2 linked regions of the Homo sapiens genome follow. The protein of the gene in region 1 purifies or fractionates together with the protein of each later gene. This does not show direct contact. Each region holds a gene or a part of one and is shown in the gene's direction. Other genes may lie near its edges.

Region 1 (3,135 bases):
CTCACCAGCTTCCCCCAAACACAACATCGATCTTTCCCGACTTTTAATCTTGTCTAGAGTCAAAAGCTGTTCAAAAATATTCAACTCCAAGGTCAACAGTTTTGTTCTTGCCACAAAAATGTCCTTATCCTTTATCCCAGCCACAAAGAATGTGAACAATTTGACTCAAGGTTCGTGGTGGCTGGAGGGTCCCCCAGGTCCCAGGGCAGCTCCCACCTGGCGCAGGGCTCCGGCCAATGCCTGGCCTGCAGTGTGGGCGGCGGCTGCTCTCGAGGTGCACCTGTCTCATGTGGACGGATCCTGTCTGGGGCCACCAAGCTCTGCCAGCCTGAGTCACGGTCTGATGAACCCCCTCTCTGGGCTCCGCTGGGGCCTTCTGATCCCAGCCTCCTCTGCAGGGATGGGCTCCCAATCCCGCCCTCACTTGGTTCCCATGCACAGCCGAGGTCAGTGAGACCCTGGAGGCCGCGGGAGATGGGGTGGAGGGGATGGTGGGGCAGGGGGTGCTGGGGGGTTTGGGGGTGCTGTGGCCCCGGGGCAGGGGGTGCTGGGGGGTTTGGGGTGCTGTGGCCCCACCTGCACTCCCTGCCTCACTGGGACAGCACAGGAGACAGGCTTCTCCTGCAGCTCAGAGGTGGGGGCCTAGTGTAGCTGCAGGTTGTGACTGAGGAGGGCAGGGTCAGAGCATTGCCCTGGGCAGGGGTCCGTTGAGACTGGCCCCACCTTATTAGCTTGGGACCTTGGGTTACAGGGAGTCTCCTCCTGCCTCAGTTTCTACATTTCACACAGCAGCACTGCTCACAAGAGCTCCCAAGCAGAGGCAACTACTGAGTGGGGGAGGGACACAGTCCGTCCACATGGGGCCAACGGCCACAAAGAGAGGAAGGGACATGGGTGACGGTCCGTCCACGTGGGGTCACCGGCCACGGAGAGAGGAAGGGACATGGGTGACGGTCCGTCCACGTGGGGTCACCGGCCACGGAGAGAGGAAGGGACATGGGTGACGGTCCGTCCACATGGGGTCACCGGCCACGGAGAGAGGAAGGGACATGGGTGATATGGTTTTGCTGTGTCCCCACCCAAATCTCAACTTGAATTGTATTTCCCAGAATTCCTGCGCGTTGTGGGAGGGACCCAGCGGGAGGTAATTGAATCATGGTGGCTGGTCTTTCCCGTGCTATTCTCGTGATAGTGAGTAAGTCTCACGAGATCTGACTGGTTGATCAGGATTTCCGCTTTTGCTTCTTCCTCATTTTCTCTTGCTCCTGCCGTGTAAGAAGTGCCTTTTGCCTCCCACCGTGATTCTGAGGCCTCCCCAACCATGTGCAATTGTAAGTCCCGTTAAACCTCTTTTTTTCCCAGTCTCGGGTATGTCCTTATTAGCAGTGTGAAAACAGAATACTACAGTGGTCCATCCACACGCGGGTCTCACCCAGCCACAGAGAGGGAGAGGACGTGGCCCATCCACACGCGGGTCACCCGGCCACGGAGAGGAAGGAAGCTCTAACGGGTGCTGAGGCTGTAACACACAGTGCTCAGGGAAGGACACCAGACATGAAGACTGTGTTCTGTTTATATGCAGTGTCCAGAGAAGGCGTGTCCACAGACAGAAGCCGACTGGGAAAGGAGGTGCAGTCACTGCTCAGGGACACGGGTTCTTTTCGGGGAGGCAAGCGTGTTCGCAGCGTGTTCTGTATGGGGAGAGATGCAGTCACTGCTCAGGGACACGGGTTCTTTTCGGGGAGGCAAGCGTGTTTGCAGCGTGTTCTGGATGGGGAGAGGTGCAGTTACTGGTCAGGGACACGAGTTCTTTTCGGGGAGGCAAGCGTGTTTGCAGCGTGTTCTGGATGGGGAGAGGTGCAGTCACTGGTCAGGGATACGAGTTCTTTTCGGGGAGGCAAGTGTGTTCTAAGCGTGTTCTGGATGGGGAGAGGTGCAGTCACTGGTCAGGGACACGAGTTCTTGTGGGAAGAGGAGTGTCCGGGAGCCAGATGGCAGTGATGGGTGGACGGCCCCGTGGATGGACTGACCACCGACCCATGCTCTGCACTCATGAGGCGTGGCTATTGCTGTGTGAATCACATCTCCATGGAAACGGGAGTGGGAGAAACGGGCCCCAAGGATGTTGTGAAGATGGCCTTATGGGGCTGCACTGGTGACTTGGACAGTGCTGGCCACCGGCCCTGCTCAGTGAACAAGAGCCATGGTCATCACCCTCGCCACACAGAGCAGCTCCTCCTGCAGACTTGGGGACCCCGTGGCCACCAGACCCCGCGGTGGGAGCAGAGATGCCTCCGAAACTCTGGAGACCCACAGAGGCAGAAGAGGATTCCACGAGGCCGGGGCCCGTCAGCAGATCCTCAGACGGCGACACGCGCCACTTCCTTTTCTGTTTCCTAGACCTTTTAACTGATGGAATTCAGTAAGCAGAAAACGTGCTTGAAACAAGGGCACCATGGAGCGGACCCTCCCCCTCTCCCCTCGTGGAGTCCTTGACCCTGGGGCAGGTGACCCTTCTTGCTTTGCAGGCAGGGGCTGTGGCTGGAGCTTCTCCTACAAATGGGCTGTGCTGGGATTAGCCCGGCTGTACATTTGCTTTATGCTTCCGTTGGCATTTAAAAATCTGATGTTCATATTTGCCGTATTACGTGAAGTAGGACGAAACGTTCCTTCTTGCTTAGAGCAGTGTTTCCCCAGAGGTGCCCGGGCCCAGGGGACAGTGGCCAACCTCTGGAGACATTTCGTGTTGTCATGAGGCTGGGTGTCCAGGAGGGGGCGATGCTGCATCTGCTGTGCACAGGACGCGGCCACATCAAAGGACCCCACCTGCAAAACACATGCCCAACCTCCTTCCTCCTCTCCAGCCCAGAGTCAGGGCTGTCCCCCCTCCCTCCAGGGGACACATCCCCCCTCCCTCCACGGGATACATCCCCCCTCCCTCCACGGGACACATCCCTCCTCCCCCCACGGGACACATCCCCCCTCCCCCCACGGGACACATCCCCCCTCCCTCCAGGGGACACATCCCCCCTCCCTCCACGGGACACATCCCCCCTCCCTCCACGGGACACATCCCCCCTCCCTCCAGGGAACACATCCCCCCTCCCTCCAGGGGGCACATCCCCCCTCCCTCCA
Region 2 (3,500 bases), on another chromosome or scaffold:
GATCACGAGGTCAGGAGATCGAGACCACAGTGAAACCGCGTCTCTACTAAAAATACAAAAAATTAACCGGCCGTGGTGGCGGGCGCCTTTAGTCCCAGCTACTCAGGAGGCTGAGGCAGGAGAATGGCATGAACCCAGGAGGCGGAGGTTGCAGTGAGCCGAGATTGTGCCACTGCACTCCAGCCTGGGCGACAGAGCGAGACTCCGTTTCCAAAAAAAAAAAAAAGATCATTGTTTCCATCCCTGCTAGCACAACATCCAGCCTGTAGCCTGTGGATCAATGAATGAATGAATGACTCGGAAATCAAGATGACTCCTTGACATGTCATTCATTCATTTATTTATGCATGACAAGGTGTCCCACTGTCACCCAGGCTGGAGTGCAGTAGCACGATCTTGGCTCACTGCATCCTCCACCTCCCGGGTTGAAGCAATTGTCTTTCCTCAGCCTCCTGAGTAGCTGGGGCTACAGGTGCGTGCCACCATGCCCAGCTAATTTTTATATTTTTTCATAGGGGGTTTCACCATGTTCCTCAGGCTGGTCTTGAACTCCTGAGCTCAAAGCAGTCTGCCCGCCTCAGCCTCCCAAAGTGCTGGGACTACAGGCCTGAGCCACTGTGCCTGGCCAAGTCTTAGTGTTTTTGAGGCACGGTCTCACTGTGTCTCCCAGGCTGCAGTGGAGAAGCAGAATCACAGCTCACTTTAGCCTCCACCTCCCAGGCTCAAGCGATCCTCTCACCTCAGTCTCCTAAGTAGCTAGGACCACAGGTGCGCACCGCCATGACTGGCTAATTTTGTTTTTATTTTTGTAAAGATAGGGTCTCCCTGTGTTGCCCAGGCTGGTCTTGAACTCCCGGCCTCAAGCAGTCTGCCTGCGTCAGCCTCCCAAAGTGTCGGGGTTACAGGCAGGAGCCACCGCAGCCGCCCATGACTCTCATTATTGAGAAATACATTTGTAAGGCTCTAGGTGCCTGTAGGTGCCGTGGAGAGCAATTCCTCTGATGGAGCTGGGGAAATTGGGTAAATTGAAACCCCCGGAAAGGCTTTGCCGTTCTAGAGGCTGTGAAGGACACGCGTGATCCATGGGAGGAGGTAACATGTCAGGATGAGCGGAAGTTTGGAAGAAGTTGGTCCCAGGCCTGAAAGATCACTGTGAGGGTTCAGGACTTCAGTGGAGGAGGGACTGTAGAGGTTTTAGAAGCAGCAAGAGAACTAGAATGAGAAGGACTTGGAGATGTGACTGCATTGTCGCTGTCTCGCGAGAAAACTTTAACACGTGAGGAGTTGCCTCTGAAGGGTGAGCAGGGGAGTTGCTTCAGTTGCGCTCTAGTCCCAGTGAAGATTCTGTGAACCTGGGGGTAATGAGGACAAAGAACTTGGAACAGCCCGGAACCTCGGTTGATGAAGCCGCGGCCGGGTTGAGAGGACCGACTGCAGTTCTGAAAGACGTTCTGCTGTGGGTAATCAATGCTATCAGACAGCATCACGCCCCACAGAGAAATCTTTCATGAAAGGAAGAGTCCATCGCTGTGGCCAACTTTTTTGTGGTCATAGTTTAAGAAGTTGCCCCAGCCTCCAGCAGCCACCGCCCCAACGAGTCAGCCGCCGTCCACATTGAGGCAAGACCCTTCTCCGGGGAGATTAGGGCCACTCCCGGTTCCCATGATCATTACCATTGCTTAGCAGTAAAGTATTTTTATTTCTTTATTATTTATTTAAGATGGGGTCTTGCTGTATCCCCCAGGCTGGAGTGCAGTGGTGCGATCATAGCTCACTGCAGCCTCCGCCTCCTGGGCTCAAACGATCCTCCCGCCTCAGTCTCCCGAGTAGCTGGGACCACAGGCTTGCACACCACGCCCCGCTTAATTAAAGTGTGTCCTTTGATTAGACACAACGCTACTGCACACTTCCTAGACCACGGTATACTGTGAACGTAACTTGTGTGTGCACTGGGAAACCAGAACATTCGAGCGGCTGTTGCCGTGCGGAACCCAAGGCCTGTGATCCCCACAGGGTGTTTCTGGCACCGGAACGCAGGGGCCACATCCAGGGGGGCAGTGCTTGTGACGCCGGTGCCTTCGTTTCTGATGTGGCTTACTCAGCTGGGAGTTCCTGTCCTAACATTTTCGGCGATGGCTGTGCACCCACGGCCCCTCTTCACCCGCGGCCCCTACGTCCTGCCGGTTGGCAGGAAACCTCTTCCCCTGCACATCTGGGGCACAGCAGCAAACTGTGGTCCCCCTTCTTCAGTGAGGGTGGGGCTTCTGTCTGTCTGGAGCCCTAGAATGGGGCCAGGGGTGGCTGGGGCCTGGGTCAGGGAGGACCCGGCAGGATCTGTGCAGACAGGCAGGTGGCTGCGGTGGCTCCCGGTGCAGGGTTCTTGGCCTCCTGGGCGGGTACCTGGCTTGAGGGCGACGAGGTGACAGCCGCGTCCCTGGGGTTGCACCACCCGAGCGTCCAGTTAACACCACAGCTGCCACCCTTCAGTTCTGCAGGTGGGGCTCCTCCCTCCTCCCCAGGCTGCCCCCACCACCCTTCAGTTCTGCAGGTGGGGCTCCTCCTTCCTCCCTCCTCCCCAGGCTGCCCCCGACCACCCTTCAGTTCTGCAGGTGGGGCTCCTCCTTCCTCCCTCCTCCCCAGGCTGCCCCCGACCACCCTTCAGTTCTGCAGGTGGGGCTCCTCCCTCCTCCCTTCTCCCCAGGCTGCCCCCGACCACCCTTCAGTTCTGCAGGTGGGGCTCCTCCCTCCTCCCTTCTCCCCAGGCTGCCCCCGACCACCCTTCAGTTCTGCAGGTGGGGCTCCTCCCTCCTCCCCAGGCTGCCCCCGACCACCCTTCAGTTCTGCAGGTGGGGGCTCCTCCCTCCTCCCCAGGCTGCCCCCACCACCCTTCAGTTCTGCAGGTGGGGCTCCTCCCTCCTCCCTCCTCCCCAGGCTGCCCCCGACCACCCTTCAGTTCTGCAGGTGGGGCTCCTCCCCAGGCTGTCCCTGACCACCCTTCAGTTCTGCAGGTGGGGCTCCTCCCTCCTCCCTCCTCCCCAGGCTGCCCCAGACCACCCTTCAGTTCTGCAGGTGGGGCTCCTCCCTCCTCCCCAGGCTGCCCCCGACCACCCTTCAGTTCTGCAGGTGGGGGCTCCTCCCTCCTCCCCAGGCTGCCCCTGACCACCCTTCAGTTCTGCAGGTGGGGCTCCTCCCTCCTCCCTCCTCCCCAGGCTGTCCCGAGGCTCCTTGCTGGGGACCGTCCTGCCTCCCGTCGGGGCCTGCGCTGAGACTGGGCTCCATGCCAGCCGGGGCTGGCTGGCCCCCTCGCTCCAGAGAGCGACCTGCACAGAGTCCCCTCAGCCATGAGCCCCTGTCCAGACACGGCGTTTCTCTGTGGGTGGCAACAGGCTCTGGGGCCCTCAGCTCTGGGCTCGGGAGCATTTAAGGTGGTGCAGACTCAGCGAGGGGCTGTGGGCTGGGGTCCCACCATCCCGGGAGCAGGGACTGCGTGTTCCTTCTCA

What was found. Proteins that work in one complex are often made in the same cells at the same time.
Region 2: the proteins of TMEM255B (region 1) and CSNK1G2 purify together in Homo sapiens (affinity purification with mass spectrometry; one large-scale study listed by BioGRID and IntAct). This does not show direct contact.

Annotation. Positions count from the first base shown.
Region 1 is NC_000013.11:113,814,361-113,817,495, forward strand, and holds the end of TMEM255B (transmembrane protein 255B), read left to right. Parts: 3' UTR 1-2,635; downstream 2,636-3,135.
Region 2 is NC_000019.10:1,965,172-1,968,671, forward strand, and holds part of CSNK1G2 (casein kinase I), read left to right. Parts: intron 1-3,500. UniProt on the Homo sapiens protein: Serine/threonine-protein kinase. Casein kinases are operationally defined by their preferential utilization of acidic proteins such as caseins as substrates. It can phosphorylate a large number of proteins. Participates in Wnt signaling.